Linked DNA regions of Homo sapiens: all the other regions are linked to region 1. Evidence: fine-mapped expression QTL. A gene starts in region 1. Each other region holds a variant in brackets. All regions are shown on one strand. Distances are between the middles of the regions. Region 1 holds the start of HNRNPLL (heterogeneous nuclear ribonucleoprotein L like). Region 2 overlaps GALM (galactose mutarotase). Region 3 overlaps GALM (galactose mutarotase).

The links.
Region 2: its variant is fine-mapped to the expression of HNRNPLL in sigmoid colon (GTEx, PIP above 0.99).
Region 3: its variant is fine-mapped to the expression of HNRNPLL in whole blood (TOPMed, PIP 0.98).

Annotation. Positions count from the first base shown.
Region 1 is chr2:38,598,554-38,606,735 of GRCh38, reverse strand. It overlaps HNRNPLL (heterogeneous nuclear ribonucleoprotein L like), which reads left to right and starts at 3,808. Exons shown (of 13, transcript NM_138394.4): 1 at 3,808-4,298. The coding sequence starts at 4,110. RefSeq lists silencers at 3,629-3,698, 3,919-3,968, 3,989-4,088.
Region 2 is chr2:38,724,174-38,732,355 of GRCh38, reverse strand. It overlaps GALM (galactose mutarotase), which reads right to left. Exons shown (of 7, transcript NM_138801.3): 5 at 2,659-2,800; 6 at 447-621. All of the region lies in intron 1 of LOC124905993 (a long non-coding RNA gene), which reads left to right. Among named protein-coding and RNA genes, the nearest start is that of SRSF7, 23 kb to the left of the region's middle. The variant C/A (reference allele first, on the strand shown) is at 3,483.
Region 3 is chr2:38,697,462-38,705,643 of GRCh38, reverse strand. All of the region lies in intron 4 of GALM (galactose mutarotase), which reads right to left. The region is part of intron 1 of LOC124905993 (a long non-coding RNA gene); the gene reads left to right. Among named protein-coding and RNA genes, the nearest start is that of GALM, 35 kb to the right of the region's middle. The variant G/C (reference allele first, on the strand shown) is at 4,070.

The sequences.
Region 1 (8,182 bases):
TGATTGCGCTACTGCACTCCACAGCCTGGGCAGCAGAGTGAGATCCTGTCTCAAATAAAGAAATAAATAAAAAGGAGAAATCAGTGAATGAATTAGCATCATTATATAATAAGTGACTATAAATTAGATCTGTATGTCCATGGTAATAAATAACACAATAATTAAATCATCAGTCTTCTGATGACGAGTACTGGCTCTGGAACCCGATTGCTTGGGTTCCAGTCCTGGCTTTTCAATTTATTAACTGCAGCTCTAGGGCAGGTTTCCTTTTTTTTCTTTTCTTTTTTTTGAAACAGGGTTTCACTCCAACACCCAGGCTAGAGTGTAGTGGTGCAGTCACGGCTCACTGTAGCCTGGACCTCCCTGGGCTCAGGCAATCCTCCCACCTCATCCTCCTGAGTGGCTGGGATTACAGGCACGCACCACCATTCCAGGCTAATTTTTACAATTTTTGTGGAAACAGGGTCTTGCCACGTTGCCTAGGCTGGTCTCAAACTCCTGGGCTCAAGTGATCTGTGTGCCTCTGCCTCCCTCTGTGCCCAGCCTAAGGCAGGTTTCTTAATCTCCCCTAGACTGTTTCTTTAATTGTATACTGGGAAGAGTAATAATAATGCCTCTGGTAGAAGGCTTCTGTCAGAATTTATTGACAAAACCCTTTCAGTGGTTAGCACAGTGACTGGCACATTAAATGTGGCTATTAATTATTGTATATGTATTATTACATATGGATGCTTGTAGCCTATCTCTTGGGTATGAGCCTTGTTTCCACAACTTGATTGCAAGCTTTGAGAGGGCAGGGACCAGCTCACGTAGTCCTCTCATCACCTAGCACAATGTCTTATAAATTTTATAGATCAGTAACGAGATTTAAAACTAAAGGGCAATTTGAGGCTGGATTGATTATAAAGGCCCTTGACTCTCAATTTCCCTAGGCCTGCCCTAAGCCTGTCTCCTACTCCAGTATAGCTGGAGTCCCCTTTGAGCTGTGGCAATGGGAGCTCTTGGCTGCTGCCTACTTGACAGCAGCGAATTCAATCAAATGTTCAGAAAATAGTCAAAGGTCTGAGGCCGTAATGCATGAGAGGTTCCAGACAGTCATGGCATTTAGGAGCTGTTTCTGCTTTTCTTAGGTATTTCTGGCTACTGGGCAGTGTGTAATTTCTTTGTCTCACCTAAGTGAAATAATGTAGAGTATAATTTATGTCCTCTCTCTTTAGCTCCTCATGCCCTGGTGATGAGCTAGCTAGTATTTTCCTTATCAAAGGACCTACTGTCACTGTCTGAACAACTCATCTGCAACAAGCTCGCATTTCACCCATGGTTAACGAACTGATTGGTGTCCTTTAAAAATGCTTTCTAAGTTTTACTCCCTCAATATTTTTTTTTTTACTCAACTGGGCTACTTACAAAAAGAACAAAGTTTAATACTGGTACATATTGAATTCCACCTGCTGTTTGTGAACGCTGAGCACAGCAGCCCTAGGTTTGGCAAGGCTGGATTTCCTTACCCATTGGTGTGACAGTTGCATTGTAATGTGGTATAATCCATAGGTTGAATGCAGGGCTTTGAGAATTTAAAATATTTGCATCTTCACAAGAAATATTTGGAAAGTTTGTATAAGGCCTAGTAAATCCAGTTGTGAGTGAATAGAATTTACCAAACTAAATTCACCTAGCATATGAAAATGTACATAAAACAAAATTAACAGGTAGTTGCTCATACTTAACAAAAAGATATTTAGTGCTTCTCATCACACTCAATTATTTCACATAATATTCTATTGTTTTCTTTCTCCTAAAAAATAATTGTTTTAAGCTCTCAGCTCTTCTCTTTTAATTTGAGCAAACTAAAAATATCTTGAGAATGGCCCATCTCACCTCATCAAAGAAGTTTCCTTTGTATCAAGTTTATTAATTCACTCATCCTTTCCTGATCTTTGATACTGAGACTGCTATAAAAAGGACAATGGATGCTAAAGATAACACGTGAAGTAGGTTTGTTAGACCTTTTTTTTGACCCTTGGTATCTTCAGCTTTCTGAAGGCCAGGTAATGTCTGCATTCTGAATATGTTAGGGGACATATGAATCCATAGGACATATTTTAAGCAGAATTGTATCATTGTTTCCCTTGTTGCTATTTTACTTTCCCAAACCATTGCAGAGCTTTTTGCCAATGACATTTTCTCATCCGCAGCCAGCTCTGCCACTCTTTTGCTATTTCTTCTGTCGACTTCCATTTTAATTTAAAAAATAAATTTATAATTTTTTTAGTTCTGTTTTGTCAATGTATACCTGCAGCCGCACACACATTTGATTATAGCTGCATAGTGTGGAAAATCTTGCAATTAGATTCCAAAATGACAGCCGGTGTAATTTACAAAGTACAAAAGTGTTATGTTAAAGCACTCTCAGCAATAAATAAAAATAGCTTTTTTGGAGGAGGAAATAACTTTGGAGAGAACTAGGCTGGAGGAGGAAGCAATCTACACTCTTAGGAAAGGAAGAGCCACATCTAGGAAAGCATCCGAGGGACAAGGACAACAGAAACACAAGAGGCTCTTGATCTCAGGCAGTCCTCCAAGAGGCACCTGACAGAGGGCAGTTAGGTTGCCTTGATTTGCCAGTTTCTGTCCTGAAAGATACACTGGACCTTTATTTCCCAAGGACTACTCATTCAGCATTGTTGAGCACCTAAATTGTGCTGGAGATCGCACAGGAACTGGGCTTGCGAAAATGAAAATTGCACACAGTTCCTGTCTTCAGGCGCTCACAGAGTTTTTAAAACAGAACATCTTAAGAGGGAGTTATAAGGGGCCCTGTTGCAAAAAGAGAGCAGCAACTAAAATCTTGGAAAAGCCCTCAGGACACCACAGAGGAAGCAAGCTGTGATCACAGAACTTTGAAAGGCTTTTGTATCTTTCGACAATAAATGATCAAGTGAAGTAAATACATTGTCCAGAAGAGAAAGAATTGGGATGGAGGATGAGATTTTATATGGAAGGATTAAAACATATTTAACTGGAGCAGGGACTTACAGGGACAGGCAAGTCAGTAAAGGGCCCAGGTTACAAACGAGTTATAACCGATCAGACCGACGAGCGCCCGCGTGCAGCGCCTCCTGCCGACGCGCGCCTCGCAGCCTTCAGTCAATGCTGACAGCTGTTCTCCAACACCCAGCTAGGGGCGGGAGGGTCCGCCCACTTCTACCAGATTTTGCACACAAAACAGTGGAAAGACCATTCTCATGGCTCCAAGCCGTTTTCTCCCTTCATCGCCTGCAATTTTAGGGCTTTTCGGGGGGTATGACTGCAGGGATTTTAGAGGTTTTTTTCCTCATTCTCTTTTTAAGAGGTGATAAAAAGCATTTAAATTAGCGGCAGGGCGGTTAACACCCGCAGCCCTAGCCTCTCCGCACTTCTCGTCGCTCGTCCGTGTTCACTCCACGCCTGGCCTCGGGTAGGAGCCGCATAGCGCCAACGGTTGCGGGTCGCAACTACTCCCAGGCGGCGCGCCTTGCGCGCCGGGCCTCCCAGGACCGCGGCGAGTTCAGAAGGCGCGGGGAGAGAAGTGAGGTCGAGCAGCGGGCGGCTTTTGACGAACGGCCCTCACAGCCAATGGGAAGCCCGGTCGACTTTCCCGCCCCTGCCAATAGGGAGCAGAACCCGGGCCGGGGGGGGCGCTTCCCGCAGGCTGCGGCTGGATTCGATCCTGCGCGACGGCCGCGAAGGCGGGGGCGGAGGCTCGGCCTGCGCGGCTGGGAGCGGCTTAGGGGAGGAGGGAAGACCGGAAGCCACGGTTGCGTCCCCATCCTTAGATTCGCTCCTCCGGGCAGGGAGCGGAGACGGAGGAGGAGGAGGGAGAGGCTGAATGTTGGCTCGGTAATTGAGAGGAGCGGCCGCTCCAGAGCTTCCTCCCGGGGCGCCCCCCTCAGTCCGTCCGCGCTTCTCAGCCGCCAGTCTCCTGGCCGCGCAGTCCCCGCGGACGGCCGGGCCGCGGAGACCCTCGCAGAAGAGGCGCTGCCGGCGGCGAGGACTGGCCGGCGGCATCCGAGGCGCGCGCCCCACCGCCACCCCCACCCGCCTGCCAGCCGGTCCCTCCGGCCGCCGCCATGTCCTCCTCCTCTTCCTCCCCCAGGGAGACGTACGAGGAGGACCGGGAGTACGAGAGCCAGGCCAAGCGTCTCAAGACCGAGGAGGGGGAGATCGACTACTCGGCCGAGGAAGGCGAGAACCGCCGGGAAGCGACGCCCCGGGGCGGGGGCGATGGCGGCGGCGGCGGCCGGAGCTTCTCTCAGCCGGTAACAAAGCGCGGCCCCCCTGTCCGCTGTGCCTGGCTGCTCCCCGGGAAGCAGGGCCTCGGTGCGGGGCCTCCCGCTTGCTTCAGTTAGCCTTTTCCGCTGCGCCGACCCGTTTGGGGAAGCGCCCACTCTTCTCTTTGGGGCTCGTATTCTGGCCTCTACCTGTTTCCCGCATCCCGACTGCGAACCCGGCGCCGTCCTGGCCGCAGGCCCCGCAGCGAGTCCACTGCCGGGCCCTGAACTTGGGGAGGGTCGCGGCGCGGCGGCGGCGGCGGGGAGGCGTCGCTTCCGCTCTGGGGGGTTTCGCGGCTCGGGGAGCTCTTTGTTAGTTTAACTCCTCGGGCTCGGGGCCAGCGTCGGGACCACCGGTTCTCTTCAGTCCCTCTGCCCGCAGCAGCCGCGCGTTGGTCACCATCCCGGGATGGTTGCGTCGGTTCTACCGGGAGCTCTCTCCGCCTCGGTCCTATGGAGACCCGTAATTAAATAACAGATTATGCCTTGGCGTTCACATGCTAGTTCCCTTGAAGGTTTAATTTAAAAAATTTTAAAATTAAACTCTTTATAAGCATGGCGTGCATCCTTTGCTCTACCCAATTTTGTGGATTACTCAGTACACTTTTTACCTCTTCGGTTACAACACTTCAACAGAAGTGTTGGCAGCTGTTGGTACACCCCTACCTTCAAGTAAAACAAATCTTAAAATTACTAAAGTTTTTCATTGGTAATTTATTCCACATTTGCCCCATGAAAGGATGAAGTGAGCTCAGGGTTGCATTAAACACACATTCCTAGAGCCAGGTCTTTCTCTTACCAGAAATGTTAGGGGGAGGCAGAAGGAATGTGATCATTTTGTCCACAGCAAGTAGTTAGCTTCAGTTGGATGGAGACTTTAAGGAAACAAAGCGGAGCAAACGTTATTGCCCTTTTTTGGTGCACTTAAGCGGTTTTAATGACTTAGATGTTATTTAAACATTTAACACATGAATTGTGATTAATTCTGCAAACTTTAACAGAATTACGAAACTGTACACATATATCCTACTATTAGGTTAAAAGGGTTTTTACCTTACCTTTTAAAAATAAGACGCACATTAGAAGCCCTTTATAGCCGTTTGAATTTTTAAATAATAAAAAAAAAGGCTGGTCAGTCACCCAGCGTTGCAGTTTCCAGTTACCAGGATGTGAGAGCAAACTTTGCAACACATTTAAAAAAGGAACTTTTTCTCTCAGTCTTGTTACGGTGTTAGCTATTACTTTAGATTTTTGTGCCGAGCTATTTGAAATATTCAAAATGTAACTTGGAAGTGTGAATAAAGGAAATGGTTTTTTCTTAGGAAGTTTCAGTTCAAAGCCAACTCTGTTGTGGAAATTGGAAACAGGAATATTATAACTGATATTTCGATGTATTCGATCAGTGTACCTCGTTGCTAGAAATCTTGCTTGGGTTTTTGTGCAGCATCATGAAATGTCTTCAGGCATTTTGGAAAGATACTTAAATCAGATTATAAAAATTTGTTTTTGAAAACAGATAAAGCATTAAATCAATAGTATTATTTTGGATGTTGGGAAGAAAATAACATATAATTAATGTATCCAAAGCGAAATGTGTGGAGCGGTGGAAATGGCACTGAGTAGGGCTTGGGGGTGGTCAAGAGTCTAGGCTTAGCATACAATTTTTTTTTTTTTTTGAGAGGATCTCACTCTATGGCCCGGGGCTGGAGTGCAGCAGCTCTGGAGTGCAGCAGCTCGTGATCACGGCTCACTGCAGCCTTGATCTCCCTGTCTCAAGCGATCCTCCTACCTCAGCCTCCCGGGTTGCTGGGACTGGAAGCCTGCATCACCACGCCGGGCCAATTTTTTTTTTCTGTGTTTTGTAGAGAAGGGGTTTCACCATATTGCCAAAGCTAGTCTCTTAACTCCTGGGCTCAAGAGATCCACCTGAGTTGGCCTCCCAAAGTGCTGGGATTACAGCCGTGAGCCACCGCACCTGGTCTTAGCATACAATTTGTGTGAGTCTGAGAAAGTCAGTTTACTACTCTGAGTTCTCTTAGTCTGTAAAATATGAAGGTTGAAACACATGCCTTTTTTAACCGAAGCTATAGTTAAGTGATTAACGTAATGCTAATGCTGCTTTTAAGTTACCCCGGCGGGAACTGATATAAGCAGATTGAGGTATAAATTTTAATTTTTTTGTTTATCTTACTGCTGATATGTTTCCTAGGAAAGGGTGAATTGTTTTCATTTAACAGTAAAACCATCATTGTACTATGAAATCTAATGAAGCCTTGTTTATCTTGTTTTTAAATATTTTTCATGTAATTTTTGGTACTATTTTGAAATCATGGCAACTATGGAAACCTGTACATAATAAAATTCTATTATTAGGATAGACGTTCCCCGGATAGAAGTTTACTGTCTTGTGCTTCTTCGTTCACATGTTTGGTAATTCATTGTAACCGAAAAGGGTTTTGCACAACTTCAGTGGTCCTTCAGCCCAGAGAAGAAATACCTTTGTGGTCAGACTGTTAAAGTAAATGCAGGTTAGGTACAATGATGGCATTCTTTTCAACTCTAGTTGGAAGTTTGTAAAGTGCAAAGTAAGCCTTTGAAGATTTACATTGCTTGGTTTTTTATGATTAACCTTGAGTGCTTTGATAATATATTGACTACATTTAAAGAGGAAAGTGAGTATTTAAGAAAAACATAGTGGTTCTACAAAGGCTCTTAACTTAGAAATGAATGGATAATTGTGAGTGATCATTATGTTGAAGGTACAAAGAGAAATGAGAGAAGAGTTAATACTTTGGATATGAGAAATAAAACACCCTTCAAATTTGTGTCTTCTGGTACCTTTTTTTAATAGAGCAAAAAACTCCTAGGGTTTTTCACATTCACTGAGCTGCATTGTTGAATAAGGCTTGATTATAGAGGTTCCTGCCACATATTATACAGTTACTTTTTTCTTGTGGAGTAGTGTTCTTAAATTTAATAGGCATGACCTTCAAGATCATATTAAGTTTCTGTATCTTCTTTTAAGAAGGCAGCTTGACTTGGAAATATTAAGGCTTCACTTGGGAAAACCACTTGAGGAATTGGGATGGAGTGCTAATTTATTTTGGAGATTTTAAAGTTTTTCTGTTTTCTGCTAGTGAATAAACAGGCAAATCAAAGATTATTAAGTGGTTTGCTGATGAAGTGAAAATTTGTTTCTCAACTTTTAGTAAATAGACGTGAAAGATGGCAAAATGCCAAGATAAAATTGTTGCTCCTAGGATTTCCAAACAAAGGATTATACAGCACATTGAAAATCCAGTTTGAATTCAGGATACACTATTCTGTTATACTTGCACAATGTAAATTACTAATGATAGCAATATTACTGTGATCTGTTAGATGCATATGGGTTGGGAGATGGGATGAGGTCACTTAGCTCTCACAGGAGAAGTTTAGAAGACTGTGTAGTAACTACTTCATGGAAATAAAGTAGTTAAAGGATGTGTGCCCCAGAGGTAAGTGCCAGAGCCTGAGGCTTGCATAGCAGTAGTGTCTTGTGTCTCCTCCAGCGAAGCTGTTCTAGTAGAGTGAGGATTTTTAGGCCTAGTTTGGGGAAAGAAATGAAAAGTAGTAGGTTTTACCATCTTTTGGTTTTAGACTGTTTCTTCATGTTAGTATGTTACGGTGAAAAGAGCTGTTCATAGAGCCAGTAGCACAATCAAGGCAAGTGTATTGGCTCTGCTTACAAACTTTTTCACTTAACCTCTCTGGAACTCAGTGATCTCTAGCCTCATTTAAAACACAATAATTGAGCTTCTACCATATGTCAGGTGATGGGGCTATAATAGTGAAAAAATGTTACATATCTAAAAATCTGGTTCTACATCATA
Region 2 (8,182 bases), 130 kb before region 1:
CCGGGCACAGTGGCTCACGCCTATAATCCTAGCACTTTGGGAGGCCAAGGCAGGTGGATCACCTGAGGTCAGGGGTTTTGAGACCAGCCTGGCCAACATGGTGGAACCCTGTCTCTACTAAAAATACAAAAATTAAGCAGGCATGGTGGTAGGCGCCTGTAATCCTAGCTACTTGGAAGGCTGGGGCAGGAGAATCGCTTGGACCCAGGAGGCGGAGGTTGCAGTGAGCTGAGATCGTGCCCAGGAGGCGGAGGTTGCAGTGAGCTGAGATCGTGCCACTGCACTACAGCCTAGGCGACAAGAGTGAGACTCTGTCTCAAAAAACAAACCAAACAAACAAAGCATGAACTTTTGAATCATACAAGCTGATTCGAGTGTAGTGAACTCTGTCGTACAGTGTGACCTTGGACACAACTCTACTCTGAAAAGCCAGCCTGTGGCATTACCTGATTGACTGCATCAGGCCAGTTCTGAGTCTCCAGGCAGAAACCGGAGTGCTTGGGATAGACAGCTCCATTCTTGCCCTTTAATGTGCCATCCAGGAAGTTGCCCGTGTAAAACTGGACCCCGGGCTGGGTGGTGTATACTTCTAGTACCCGCCCGCTTGCAGCATGATGCACCCTGGTAAGAAATACAAACAACATGAGTCCAGGGCAGAAAAGCAGGTGGGGAGGAGTAGAAGCTGGGAAGCGGCTTTGAGACAGGAATCAGACCCAGCCACAGAGCAGGGACAAGATATAAGGAGGAGATGAAGGTAGGAAGAGCATGATGGAAAATTCTTCCAGTCTCAAAGGCAAGGCATGAGCAGGTGGCTTTCAGGATCCTCAGTAGCTTCTTTGGGGCATCACAAAACAGACTCACTCCTGCCAGCTGGGGAGTAGGGAGGAAGGCAGCAGCCAGGTTGGAGAGAGGAAGGTCCTGGAGAGGCTGAGATTCTTTTTTTTTTTTTTTTTTTTTTTGAAATAGAGTCTTTCTCTATTGCCCAGGCTGGAGTGCAGTGGCGCGACCTCGGCTCACTGCAACCTCAGCCTCCCGGGCTCAAGCAATTCTCCCACTTCAGCTCCCCAGTAGCTGGGACTGCAGGTGCGCACTACCATGTCCAGCTAATTTTTGTTTGTTTGTTTGTTTTGAGATGGAGTCTGGCTCTGTCACCCAGGGAGGAGTGCAGTGGTGCGATCTTGGCTCACTGCAACCTCCGCCCCCTTGGTTAAAGCAATTCTCCTGCCTCAGCCTCTAGAGTAGCTGGGATTACAGGTACCTGCCACCACATCCGGCTAATTTTTTGTACTTTTAGTATTGTCGGGGTTTCATCATGTTGGCCCAACTGGTCTTGAACTACTGACCTCAGGTGATCTGACCACCTCAGCCTCCAAAAGTGCTGGGATTACAGGCATGAGAGCCACTGCACCTGGCCTGAGATTCTTTTTTTTTTTTTGAGATGGAGTTTTGCTCTGTTGCCTAGCCTGGAGTGCAGTGGCGTGATCTCGGCTCACTACAACTTCCACCCCCTGGGTTCAAGTGATTCTCCTGCCTCAGCCTCCTGAGTAGCTGAGATTATAGGTGCCCACCACCATGCCTGGCTAATTTTTATATTTTTAGTAGAGACGGCGTTTCACCATGTTGGCGAGGCTGGTCTCAAACTCCTGACCTCAAGTGATCTGCCCACCTCAGCCACCTAAAGTGCTGGGATTACAGGCATGAGCCACCACGCCCAGCCCGGAGAAGGTCTTTGATCTTCTTTCTGTCACTATTTGGTTTGAGTCATTTTTTCTGCTTTATTTAAAAACTGTTGACCGGGTGCAGTGGCTTACACCTGTAATCCCAGCACTTTGGGAGGCCGAGGTGGGTGGATTACAAGGTCAGGAGTTCAAGACCAGCCTGACCAACATTGTGAAACCCCATCTCTACTAAAAATACAAAAATTAGCTGGGCATAGTGGCACGTGCCTGTTATCCCAGCTACTCAGGAGGCTGAGGCAGGAGAATCACTTGAACCCGGGAGGCGGAGGTTGCAGTAAACCTAGATCGCACCACTGCATTCCAGTCTGGGCGACAGAGCAAGACTCCGTCACACACACGCACACACACAAAACTGTTAATTCTGCAAACATTTATTCATTATTTGCTAGTGCCAAGGATGATATTAGGTGTTGGGGTAGAGGTAGGGCTTCACAAAGATGAAATGGCATGAGGAACTGGGATTTGGTGAGAAGGCGAGAGCGTGCACACAAGTGTCTATCGGTCAAGGCTGGAGGCGGTGAGTGCTGCAGGAGATGCCTAGCCTCCAACTGGCCATGGAGTAGGCAGGCATAAGTCACAGATCGAGAAAGCACAAAGGCTCTGGAAGTTCAGTGACAGCCGAGGTGACTTCACTAGGAAGAGTTAAGGCTTCTAACAGAAAATGGGCCTTAAAGAACAGGCAGAGAGGGAGAGAGCGGGTGCCAAGCAGGGGGAATAGGGGTAATGGCAGGTGGGGGACTGGGATAAATTCTACAGAGCTCACCTGTGCCATGGGAGCTTTGAGAAAATATGGGATGTGGTATTGGGTCACTTGTAGCATAGTAAATGCTATTGATATGGCCAGAGGAAAAGCTCCAAAGGAAAATAGGACTTGGTGTCATTTCTTCCTTACAGACTCAGGAAGTGAAAAGTACCTGACCTTGCACAAAAATGCTTTTCTTTAGATCCCTTCAGACAGAAATTGTGGTCAAAACCATTGAGATGGAAGTCCTGCAGGTGTTTTCCAAGCTCCACTGGCTTTCTCAGGTCGAATGCAGTGCCTTGCACTGGGGCAACTTCTCCTGATGGGAAGAGACAGAAAACAAAGGTGATAAATGCCCAAGTCTCATCTTTATATAGAGCCTCCACAAAGGCTCACTGGTTCTACTCTCTCCGCCTTCATTTTAATTTGTTAAGGAGATGGGAGCCCAGATCCTGGGAAACATGCAGAGACCCCATCTCTACCAAAATAATAAAATAAATAAATAAATAAATGTAAAAAATTAGCCAGGCATAGTGATGTGTCCCTGTGGTCTCAGCTACTCAGGAGGCTGAGGCAGGAGGATTGCTTGAGCCCAGGAGGTCGAGGCTACAGTGAACCATGATTGCACCACTGCACTCCAGCATAGGTAACAGAATGAGACTGTCTTAAAAAACAAATATGGAGAGGGTGGGGAAGAGAAAAAAAAAACCCTCAAATAAATAGAGTATATGGGAGTATGGGCTCAGGTTATATGCAAATACTGCACCATTTTATAGAAGGAACTAGAGTATCTAATGATTTAAGTATCAGTAGGGGGTCCTGGAACCAATCCTCCATGGATTCCAAGGGACAATGGAAAATATATACTCATAAATATATAGTAACATATACATAAAAGCCAGAGTTGTTCTAGCTGAATCAAGTACAGGTTCTGAGCAGCGCAGGTGGAAAACCCCAGGATAAGATGATGGCAGAGGTCCACTTCCTCTTAAAATTATGGC[C/A]CACCCAGGAGTAGTAACAGCCAGGTGCTAGAACCTTGTACCAAGTACAGAGAATACCAGTTTCCTCTGTAGCAGGCCAAATCACTCCAGCCATTTTTTCTTGAAGAGGAAAAGAAAAGGGCTCTGTTTCAGAGGCTTAAACAATGTTACGGTTGAGTTTTTGTTTTGTTTTGTTTTGTTTTGTTTTTTGAGATGGAGTCTTGCTCTGTCACCCAGGCTGGAGCGCAGTGGCGCGATCTCAGCTCAGTGCAACCTCCGCCTCCTGGGTTCAAGTGATTCTTCTGTCTCAGCCTCATGAGTAGCTGGGATTACAGGTGCACACCACCATGCTTTTGTATTTTTAGTAGAGACGGGGTTTCACCATGTTGGCCAGGCTGGTCGTGAACTCCTGACAGGTGATCTGCCCACCTCGGCCTCCCAAAGTGCTAGTATTATAGGCGTGAGCCACTGCACCCAGCCAAAAAAAAAGTTTTTTTTTTTTGAGACAGAGTTTTGCTCGTCGCCCAGGCTGGAGTGCAATGGCACAATCTCAGCTCACTGCCACCTCTGCCTCCCAGGTTCAAGTGATTCTCCCACCTCAGCCTCCCAAGTAGCTGGGATTACAGGCACACACCACCACGCCCAGCTAATTTTTGTATTTTTAGTAGAGATGGGGTTTCACCATGTTGGCCAGGCTAGTCTCCAACTCCTGACCTCAGGTGGTCCACCTGCCTTGGCCTCCCAAAGTGCTGGGATTACAGGTGTGAGCCACCACTCCTGGCCTAAAAAGTTTTCTTATAGTCCCAGAGCTGTCTCATATATTTTAAAGGTAAATGCAAATGTTAGGAGGTTAACATACTCTTTTAGGGTGATAATTATTTTTCCCTTTCATGTGGTCAAATGGCAATTTTAGGAACTTGGCTTCCACTGTAATCAGGGGAGAGAAGTAGCATGCAAAGTAGGGCTGAAATCTTAGGAGGCTAAGAAAAAGCAGGAACTTGTACCTTACCATTAAAATAATTTAAAAAGTAAAAGAAGAACCAATTGCCAGTCATTTAAAACATTTGGTTCTGCTTTTGTGGGTTCCTAAATGCTGAGAGAACACACAAATCTATCTGAGTAAAAGAGGACATTTCATTTATTTTTCCTTTTTCTTTTTTTTTTTTTTTTGAGACGTAGTCTCCCTCTGTTGCCTGGGCTGGAGTGCAATGGCCAGTCTAGGCTCACTGCAACCTCTGCCTCCTGGTTCAAGTGATTCTCCTGCCTCAGCCTCCCGAGGAGCTGGGACTACAGGCACGCACCATCATGCCCAGCTAATTTTTGTATTTTTAGTAGAGACGGGGTTTCACCATATTGGCCAGAGTGGTCTCGAACTCCTGACCTCGTGAACCACCTGCCTTGGCCTCCCAAAGGGCTGGGATTACAGGCGTGAACCACTGCACCCGGCCCCATTTCTTTTCTTAAACTCAGAACTGCTGTTCAGAAATGTAGTCTTCCTAGTGCCTGAAGACTGGAGTTCTGAGTTCACATACAGCCTCAGGATGCCTAGGTACGAAGCACTCAAGTGAGACACTGAGGTCCAGGCGATACCATCCTGGTGTGTGGGTGTCCACTGTTTAACCGAGAGAATCTGGGAAGTGCACAAAGGATTCCTTGCTCTTTTTTTTTTTTTTTTTCTTGAGACGGAGTCTCACTCTGTCGCCCAAGCTGGAGTGCAGTGGCTCAACCTTGGCTCACTGCAATCTCTGCCTCCTGGGTTCAAGTGATTCTCCCGCCTCAGCCTCCCAAACAGATGGGATTACAGGGGCACACCACCATGCCCAGCCAATTTTTGTATTTTTTGTAGAGACGGGGTTTCAACATGTTGGCCAGGCTGGTCTCAAACTTCTGACCTCAAGTGACCCACCCACCTTGGCCTCCCAAAGTGCTGGGATTACAGGTGTGATCTGGCCAAATTTTTAAATAGGGAATATTTGCACATGCAACCAATTTTTTTTTAAGACAGAGTTTTGCTCTTGTTGCCCAGGCTGGAGTGCAGTGGCGTGATCTCGGCTCACCACAACCTTGGCCTCCCAGGTTCAAGCGATTCTTCTGCCTCAGCCTCCCAAGTAGCTGGGATTACAGGTGCCTGCCACCACACCCAGCTAATTGTTGTATTTTTAGTAGAGATGGGCTTTCACCGTTTTGGCCAAGCTGGTCTCAGGTGATCTGCCCATCTCGGCCTCCCAAAGTGCTGGGATTATAGGCAGGAGCCACTGAGCCCGGCCGAGACTACTTCGGCTTGCATTTGTCTGGTTTACTTTTGCATTCTTATTCTGAGTCACTTGGTTTGTATACAGCATTGTGTTGGGATTAAATGTGAGAGACTTGGCCAGGCGGGGTGGCTCATGCCTGTAATCCCAGCACGTTGGCAGGCCGAGGCGGGCGGATCACGAGGTCAGGAGATCGAGACCATCCCGGCTAAAACGGTGAAAACCCGTCTCTACTAAAAATACAAAAAATTAGCCGGGCGTAGTGGCGGGCGCCTGTAGTCCCAGCTACTTGGGAGGCTGAGGCAGGAGAATGGCGTGAACCCGGGAGGCGGAGCTTGCAGTGAGCCGAGATCCCGCCACTGCACTCCAGCCTGGGCGACAGAGCGAGACTCCGTCTCAAAAAAAAAAAAAATAAAAAAAAAAAAATAAAGGCACTTTTGTTTCCCAGTAGATGGTGCTAGAGACACAATAGAAAGAGGTTGCTTTACATCCTCTAAACCCTGATCAGTTCTGGCAGAATTCATAGTTGAACTTTTTGGATCTTGAAAGCCAAAGGCCAAATCCTAGATAGCAGTGTGACCCACTTGGGTATGCTTTTGTCCTGCAATGTTTACATGATATACTACCTCCCAGACTTGCATGGTGGCTCATGCCTGTAATCCCAGAGGTTTGGGAGGCTGAGGTGGGCGGATCACTTGAGGTCAGGAGTTTGAGACCAGCCTGGGCAACATGGCGAAACCCCGTCTCTACTAAAAATACAAAAATTAGCCAGGCGTGGTGGCGCATACCTGTAATATCAGCTACTCAGTAGACTGAGGCACAAGAATCGCTTGAACCCGGGAGATGGAGGTTGTGGTGAGCCAAGATTTCACCACTGCACTCCAGACAGAGTGAGACTCTGTCTCAAAAAAACAAAACAAAACAAAACAAAAAAAAGAAAAGAAATGAAAAGAAAAAGGCAACAATAATTCTTCTTTTTCTTTTTTAAAGACAGGGTCCTGCTATGCTCAAGTGATCCTCCTGCCTCAGCCTCCTGAGTAGCTAGGACTACAGGTGTATGCCCAATTATATATATACGTGTGTGTGTGTGTGTATGTGTGTGTTTAAGAGCGAGGGTCTCGTTCTGTTACCCAGGCTGTAGTGCAGTGGCATGATCACAGCTCAATGCAGCCTCGACCTGCCAGGCTCAGGTAATCCTCCTGTCTCAGCTTCCTGAGTAGCTGGGACCCCAGGCATGTACCAGCACCCCTGGCTAATTTTTAAATTATTTGAAGAGATGGGGGTCTCACTTTGTTGCGCAGGCTGGTTTCAAACTCCTGGGCTCAAGCAATCCTCCTGCCTCAGCCTCCCAAAGTACTGGGTTTACAAGCATGAGCCACCATGCTCAGCAATTCTTCATGAAACAATTAGACTTGGAAAAAAAAGCAGGTATTCTCATGGGCTCAGGAAGATTTTAGTCTTACCAACCTATATTCTGAGTGGTAACTTATGCTTTCTTCTATAACTTTAAATGGTGTTACAATATTTAATTCTTCCTTAAAGCCACAGTCAACTCAAAATCTAACCCTTATGACAGTCCTAGTGTGATCGACTCAGGTCAATCAAAATTGCTTATAATTATCTCCCTTAAAGTATAACTACAGGTAGAAGGCTTGAAGAAACAAAGAAAGCTACAAAATTTTTGTGAAGGAAAGACAGAGGGCATACATCAGGTCTCTTTCCTGTTACCAAGCAATCTACAAATCAGTGTTTGCTTCAGCTCTTCCCTCTGTAAAACGAAGCTGTTATTAGCTGCCACATTACATGGAAATATTTGATAAATGGTATGCTTGAACACCTTCAGGAGTCTGGCATAAATAAATATATATAACAGGGCCAAATTTCAGGCTACCATATAGAACACAGAGCAGAGGGCACAGAGGGTAAGACTTTAAGCATGACAAAGAAGCCCTGACTTAAAATTAGAAAACTGGGACAATTCTAAAATGATGAAATTTTTGGTAAATGAGAAGAAAAAAACAGTGAAGGCTCCAATCTATCTTGTCCATCCTCATGCACTGACACACTTGGTCATGTGCTTAATGATCAAGTATATGGAAAATGTGGAATTTGTCCCCCAGATTCGCCATGTCTCTGGGCCCTTTCTCATAACTAGAATGAATGTTCCTTCTGGGTCCCCTATGCCCACCACAGTCTGGCAAAGTCCAATTGATCGTTCAAGAATATTCTCTAACATAATTTCTTCTTGTGAAATATTCTAACCTCTATAGCCAGGACCAATCTTTTTTTTCTTTGTTCTCATTATACTTAGAATAGACTTTTCTCAAAACGTTCATCATATTATGACATAATTACAGGATTTGTCAAAGTCAAATAAAATATAGAGATGAATCTCTCAATGTTTTATTTGAGAATCACAGAATTGGCCAGGCATGGTGGCTCATGTCTGTAATCCCAGCACTTTGGGAG
Region 3 (8,182 bases), 99 kb before region 1:
TTTGGCTTATTGGCTTAACAGTCATCACCACTCCTGCATTCTGTGCTTTGGTACTCTCACTCTCCTTGTGGCTAGATCCTCACAGACACTGAGAGGCTTCTCACAGCTCAGGACAATCTTGAGAATCCTCTTTCTACCCTGGCTTCTACACTCCTTCAGTCCCACAGGCATTATCTCTACAACTGCTCTGACCACATTAGGTTCTCCCCATCCCTCTGAGCTTCTCAAGGGCAGAGACAGTGTTCCATCCTCTTTATCTCTCAGGCAGCATGTAGCAATCAGTAGGTGCTCTATAAATGTTAGCTGAACTGAATACAAATCTGCTCTGGGAACTTACTTGAGTTAACATCAGGTCCGTTGCCCAAGGCCCACAGTCCCACTAAGCCCCTTCAGAATGTAGTGACCACTAAGGATGGCTATGCACCAGGAATGAACTAGAGGCAGCCCTTGTCCAGACCTGGGCTGGAGGAAGGGTAGATGTGAACCATCAACTCTCCAAGGGTGGTGGTCAGAGCTCTAGCAAATAATTCCCCTTCTGACAAATTCACTGACTGTTAGCCTGCAATTTTCACAGGAATTACACATCGCCTGGCCAAGTGCTAAATTTTGAGCTTTCTTCCTGCCAGATTTCTACCATGCTGGTTCATGTTTGCCAATCTTGTAACAGTAATGTGTTTTCCAGTAGGGAGCATGAGTAGCTTCAGGAGTTATTCTAGAGGCTCATAAAAATGATCTTGTGACCATTTTACAGGAAGGATTCAGTAATGTGCCGTCTTAAAGAATACCACTGCTACCAAGAGAGGTCCTTGGAGTTTTTGCATTAAACCTTGAATACTATCTAGCAGGGACCTATCATACAATAAACAGCTCTAGGGTAAACACATTTCATAGGGTCCAATGTCATGAGTTTAACTTTTTTACTGTTGTCCAAGTACTTTCTTATCTGTAGCCTTACTTTTTTTTTTTTTAATGGAGACAGAGTCTTGCCGTGTCACCAAAGCTAAGTGCAGTGCCCAATCATAGCTCAATTTGCCTTGAACCCCTGGGTTCAAGCAATCCTCTGCCTCAGCCTCATAAGTAGCTGGGACTACAGGTGAATGCCACTGGGCCTGGCTAATTTTTTGATTCTATTTTTTTGTAGTAAAAATGGGGTCTCTCTGTATTTCTCAGGTTCTTGAACTCCTGGACCCAATCAATCCTCCCGCCTTAGCCTCTCAAAGTTCTGGGATTAAAGGCATGAACCACTGTGCCCAGCCTCAAAAAAAATATTTTTTAAATTAGCTGAGCATGATGGGGGCATGCCTGTGATCCTAGCTATGCAGGAGGCTGAGGTGGGATGACCGCGTGAGCCCAGGAGGCCAAGGCTGCAGTGAGCTATAATTGCACCACTGCACTCCAGCCTGGATAACAGAGTGAGACCCTGTCTCTAAAAAAAAAAATAATAAAATAATAAAAAGAGAATACATAGTAGGGCAACCATAGACTATCATTACTTTGAAAGAGGAAAAAAGATAAGAAAACCCCCTTTGTGGGCCAAGGTGATGCAGCAAGTTCACAAAGGATTTTACATAGAATTTATTTTATTTTATTTTATTTTATTTATTTATTTATTTATTCATTTATTTTTTGAGACAGCGTTTCTCCCTGTCTCCCAGGTTGGAGCACAGTGGCACGATCTTGGCTTACTGCAACCTCTGCCTCCTGGGTTCAAAGCAATTCTTGTGCCTCAGCCTCCTGAGTAGCCGGGACTATAGGCACATGCCACCACACCCAGCTGATTGTTTTTGTATTTTCACAGAGAGGGGGTTTCAACATGTTGCCCAGGCTGGTCTCGAACTCCTGATCTCAGGCAATCTGCCCACCTCAGCCTCCCAAAGTGCTGGGATTACAAGCGTGAGCCACCACGCCCAGCCTTGGATTTTATATAGAATTTAAAGAGCTCATGATCCCCTTGAAGTTCTTTCATCATCTTCCCAGACATACAAGAACCCTAGTTAAGAATATCTGGGTTAGAGATTCTGTGCGGTCTTTGAATCAGGGTGTAAGAAATGGACAGGACCTCAGAGTTCAATGAATATAATCCTCATCAAGTCAGATTTTACAGATTCAGTCAATGAGGCCCAGAGAATTTTCATGGCTGACTCATAGCATAGCTAGTGGATGGCAGAACGGAGACCTATATCTTGGTTTTCTGAATCCCAGTTCTCACACAGTGTTGGGCTAATATACCGTGTTTAAGGCTGGGTGCGGTGGCTCACGCTTGTAATCCCAGCATTTTGAGAGGCCAAGGTGGGTGGATCACCTGAGGTCGGGAATTAGAGACCAGCCTGACCAACATGAAGAAACCTGTCTCTACTAAAAATACAAAATTAGCCAGGCATGGTGGTGCATACCTGTAATCCCACCTACTTGGGAGGCTGAGGCAGGAGAATCGCTTGAACCTGGGAGGCAGAGGTTGCGGTGAGCTGAGATCGCACCATTGCAATCCAGCCTGGGCAACAAGAGCAAAACTCTGTCTCAAAAAAAAAAAAAAAAAAAAAAAAAAAAAAAATATATATATATATATATATATATATATATATATATATAAAATCCCACATATCATCCCACCTCAGCCTCCCAGCCTCCTGAGTAGCTAGGATCACAGGCACACCCCACCATGCCCAGCTAATTAAAAAAAAAATTACACATATTATATATATATATATATAAAAAGTATATATATATAAATAAAGTGTATATATATATATAGTGTTTAAAACAAATGTAAAGGAGAGAGGAGTGTGGAGAGACTGGCTGGGGGCAAAATAAGCAATAGTTAATTCCTAGGATGTATAGGTTGGCTATTACTCAGCTTCATTTTTGTGTTCAGTATAGATTAGTTTTCTAGCTTCAACCCGAAGAGACCAAGCCTGAAGCTCCCTTCTAGCTCCCTACTTTGGATCTGTGACTAAATCCTGATGGATTATCTGAGCAAGCTCTGTGGAGAGGCAGATAGCAGAGACTGGCCACATCATGAATTCTAAATGGCTGATGTCATTACAAAAACCATAAGCAAGAAAGAATCTACAGTTTCCAGAAAGTGGGGGGAAAAGTTTCTAAGGAGAAAGTATGACTCTTGAAGAAGGAGGGTAAGGGTCATGTAGCAAAGAAGAGGTTATTGGGTGGTCTCTGTAGGCTGGGGGTGGGAAAGGGATGCACAGCAGGGTGGGGTGTGAGGGAGGCATGCTCGGAGATCATTTTTGTTTTTGTTTTTTGACCAGTGAAATGTTCAATTTTTTTTTTAAGTTTTAAAATTTTTAAATTTTTATTTTTTTGATCAGTGAAATGAGAGATGGTTTTGGGGAGGCCTGAGAGCCGTCTAAGAGGTTTATTAACCTGGAGATTATCAAAGTAAGATTTGCATTTTAGATAGATGCTTTTACATGGAAGATAGATCTTAAGATTTTTTTTTTTCCAGTTAGGTGTTAGAGTGCAGTTGTCCAGATTATGAATCATTCATTCATTGATCCCACTTTATGAAGCCCATAATATAAGCCAGGCACTAATCTAGACAAGAAAAGATAGTCTAAAGCAGCACAGTGAAAATGGAGATGGAGTTATATAACCAACAATACATACTGAGGAGACAGATTTGAGAAATGCTTAGGAGTTAAAAATCAGTAGGACCTGATGACTAATTAAGGCAGTGGGGAGTGAAATGGAAAGAGTAAGGATACTGACAGATGCTTGAAACAAATATGTCCAATATTTTAGAATTATATAATAAATTTAAAGGAATTTTCTGTCAGGAGCTCCAGAAAGATTAACACCCAAATGCTAATACATAAAGATCAAAACAGCCTTCGTTTGCAACATCTTTGAATGAGGAGACTACTTTGGACTTTGCTATTTCTCCAAGGCAGAGATAGAGACCTGCCCCAGGGAGGTAATTATATCATCTGCCGAATTGTAGGTTTAACCGACAGAGGTTGAAATAAAATACAAAAGTCTTGCTGGGCCTCTCTCCACAGCCTCATGGCAAGCGTTTCCTACCAGAATTCTAATTTTGTCAAAATGGGGTTGCTTT[G/C]ATGTAATTTTAGAATAAGCTTTTAAAAACTGAGAGCAGCAAGAACAGCAAGTGAACACAGATGGGCTGGGGGACAGAGTGAATTGGGTAAATTTTATAAGAATAAAAAAGAAGAGGGGATTTTACTAATGCTACTTTCAAAGGCAAAAGACCTAGTCAAAGCACTCATTTTTGCTTTCTTAATTCCTTATCTACTACTACAAATAAAGAGCAGCAAAATTATAAGGAAAAAAAAAACTGTGTGCTGTAAATGCCTTTAAAGACACATCCTTAGTAGTGCACTGTATTGTATACATCATAATGTCTTGCTGGGCAGGCTGCCCAGCTCACCTCCTAATTCTACAGTTCTGTGAGGTGAAAGGTGAAATGTAATATTTACAATCCTGAGAATGAATTAATCCCTGGCAAAATAGAAGGATTTGATTTTCTCATCTGCTCACATCTAGCTGGTGTAATACTTAAGCAGGGTACCAGGGATCTGTTTCTACTTGTTGCCACAGGGCAGGGAACTAGAATCAGGTCCTGAAGCTAAATGCCTGACATGTCTCAGACAAATAAAAACTGACAGAATTCATCACCACTAGACCAGCCTTATAAGAAATGCTCAAGGGAGTCCCACATCTGGAAGTGAAATGATAATTACTATCAAGAAAACACAAAAAAGTAGAAAACTCACTGGTAGAGCACATACACAAAGGAGAAAGAGAAAAGAATCAAATTTTACCACTACAGAAAACCACCAATCACAAGGATGAACAATAAGAGGGGAAGAAAGGAACAAAGGATATATTTAAAAAAACAGAAAATAATTAACAAAATGACAGAAGTCCTCACCTATCAATAATAATCTTGAATGTAAACTTATTAAACTTCCCCCCTTAAAATATATAGACTGGCTGAATGGATTAAAAAACATGGCCCAACTACGGTTGCCTACAAGAAACTCACTTCATCTGTAACGACACACATAGACTGAAAGGGTGGAAAAAGATATTCCATGCAAACAGAAACCAAAAGCAAGCAGGGTAGCTGTACTTGTATCAGATGAAACAGACGTCAAGTAAAAAACGATTAAAAAAAAGAAAAAGGTTATTATATAATGATAAAGGGATCAATTCAGTAAGAGGAGGTAACAATTCTAAATATATATGCACCCAACACTGGAGCGCCCAGATACATAATATAAAGCAAATATTATTAGATCTAAAGGGAGACATAGACACCAATACAATAGCTGGGGAATTCAACACCCCATTCTCTGCACTGAACAGATCATCTAGACAGAAAATCAACAACAAAACACTAGATTTAAACTGCACTTTAGGCTGAGCGCGGTGGTTCACATCTGTTATCCTAGTACGTTGGGAGGCTGAGGTGGGCGGATCACTTGAGGCCAGGAGTTTAAAACCAGCCTGGTCAACATGGTAAAACCCTGTCTCTACTAAAAATACAAAAATTAGCTGGGTGTGGTGGCGGGCACCTGTAATCCCAGCTACTTGGCAGGCTGAGGCACGAGAATTGCTTGAACCTGGGAAGTGGAGGTTGCAGTGAGTCAAGATCATGCTACTGCACTCCCAGCCTGGGCAACAGAGTGAGACTCTCTCAAAAAAACAAAAAACCCTGCATTTTAGACTAACAAAGAGACATTTACAGAACATTTCATCCAACAGATTCAGAAAACACATTATTTCATCAGCACAAGAAACATTTTCCAGAATAGACCATATGTTAGCCCACAAAACAAGTCTCAACAAATTTAAAATAATTGAAATTATATCGAGTATCTTTCCTGACCACAGTGGAATAAAACTAGAACTCAACAGCGAGGTGAACTTTTGAAATTGTACAAATACACAGAAATTAAACAATATGCTCCTGAATGATCAGTGAAGAAAATTTTAAATATTCTTCTCTTTTCTTTTTTAAGATGGTTCTTGCTATGTTGTCCAGGCTGGTCTTGAACTCCTGACCTCAGGTGATCAGTCCACCTCGGCCTCCCAAAGTGCTGGGTTTACAGGCATGAGCCACCGCACACAGCCTAAAGGTTGTTTAATGTTAATAAAAGTACAGCTAGATAGGGGGAATAAGTGCTAGTGCTCTAAAGCACTATAGGGTGACTATAATTAACAACAACTTATTGTATATTTTCAAATAGCTAGAACAGCAGATTTTGAATGTCCCAACACAAAAAAATGATAAATGTTTGAGGTGATGGATATGCTAATTACCCTGATTTGATCCTTATACATTGTAAACATGTATCAAAATATCCCAGTGTACCCTGTAAATATGTATTAGGTATCAATAAAATATGTATTAGATATCAAGTATTAGGTATCAATTAAAAATAATAACAGCTGGGGCCAGGTACGGTGGCTCATGCCTGTAACCCCAGCACTTTGAGAGGCCGAGGTGGGCAGATCACCTAAAGTTAGGAGTTCGAAACCAGCCTGGCCAACATGGTGAAACCCCGTCTCTACTAAAAATACAAAAATTAGCTGGGCATGGTGGTGGGCGTTTGTAATCCCAGCTACTCGGGAGGCTGAGGCAGGAGAATTGCTTGAACCCAGGAGGCGGAGGTTGCAGTGAGCCGAGGATGTGCCATTGCACGCCAGCCTAGGCAACAAGAGCAAAACTCTGTCTCAAAATAATAATAATAATAACAGCTGGACACAGTGGCTCATGCCTGTAATCCCAGCACTTTAGGAGGCCGAGGTGGGAGGATCACTTGAGAGCTCAGGAGTTCAAGATCAGCCTGGGCAACATAGTGAGACCCCATCTCAAAAACAAACAATATATAAACAAATGTCTGACAAAGCAGCACAGGGATCTGGCACTGCAGTGTTCTCTGTCTCTGGACATCCATTATCTACACCCCTGTCCTTTCTGGGAAACAGCTTCAGGGAGTTCTACTTCTGGGAAATTACAGGGACAGCCCTGACAACAATAAACATAGAAAACACATGCCAGAGGGACTCATATGCCCAACAACAGAGTGTGCTCCCATCCTATGGAGCAGCAAATGCTTTATGGGTGTCATTTTTTTCCTTTTTTTTTTTTTAAGTAGCTAAGAATAATTGCTCTGAAGACGCAGAGCTAAATTAACTGCTAACATCCAAACACAGCCTGACAGTGTACCTGCAAACTTTGCTCCTGGTCCATGGGTAAAAGGAGCTCTCAGCCTTGCAGAAACCTTCTGTTGGTGCCACCTGCCATGGGACAGGAAAGAAGCACCTGTGAGCAAGGGCTATGCACTCAATACACCACTGCTGACTCCTAAGTGCCGGAATTTCATCTACAGAGGTAGCTTTAGAAGTTAGGTGATGAATTCTATTCATTTATTTAAAATATATATATAATCCCAGCACTTTGAAAGGCTGAGGTGAGCAGATCACTTGAGGTCAGGAGTTTGAGACCAGCCTGGGCAATATGGTGAAACCCCATCTCTACTAAAAATACAAAAATTAGCTGGCCGTGGTGGTGCGCACCTGTAGTCCCAGCTAATTGGGAGGCTGAAGCAAGAGGATCATTTGAACCCGGAAGGCGGAGGCTGCAGTGGGCCGAGACTGCACCACTGTACTTCCAGCCTGGTGATGGAGTGAGACTCTGTCTAAAAAAAAAAAACCCCAAAACCCAAAATTGCCAACAGGAAGAAGGCAGGAGCAAAACAGGTGCTCATGGCTGCCAAAGATTTGTGGGTCCTGCCTGGGGTAGAGGTCTAAATGCCGGCTCTGCATTGAAGACGTAAGGGAATTTCTTTGTCTTGCTCTTGCTCTGGCTCCCTGTAACTGCATACCATGGTATCTCTTTTCTTTCTAGGTGATAATGCCCCATCCATAAGTGGGTTACTAACAAAATGGAGGACAGGACGTCACTCCTCCCCAAACACCTACAGGGGGAAGGTCCCCTTTTACTGAGCACTGTGGCCACAATTTTAACAGTTACTGCAAAATAAAAGTTGCTACATTCTCATGATGATGTGTTTTCCCATCACCTGAAAAATTATTTACCGAGTGTCTGTAGCCAGGGTGAAAAACACCCCTAAAGTTTAGATATGCATCAGTATTTCCCTCAAGAATAGCACACGTTAAAACTTTTATAAAGAGAAAACAA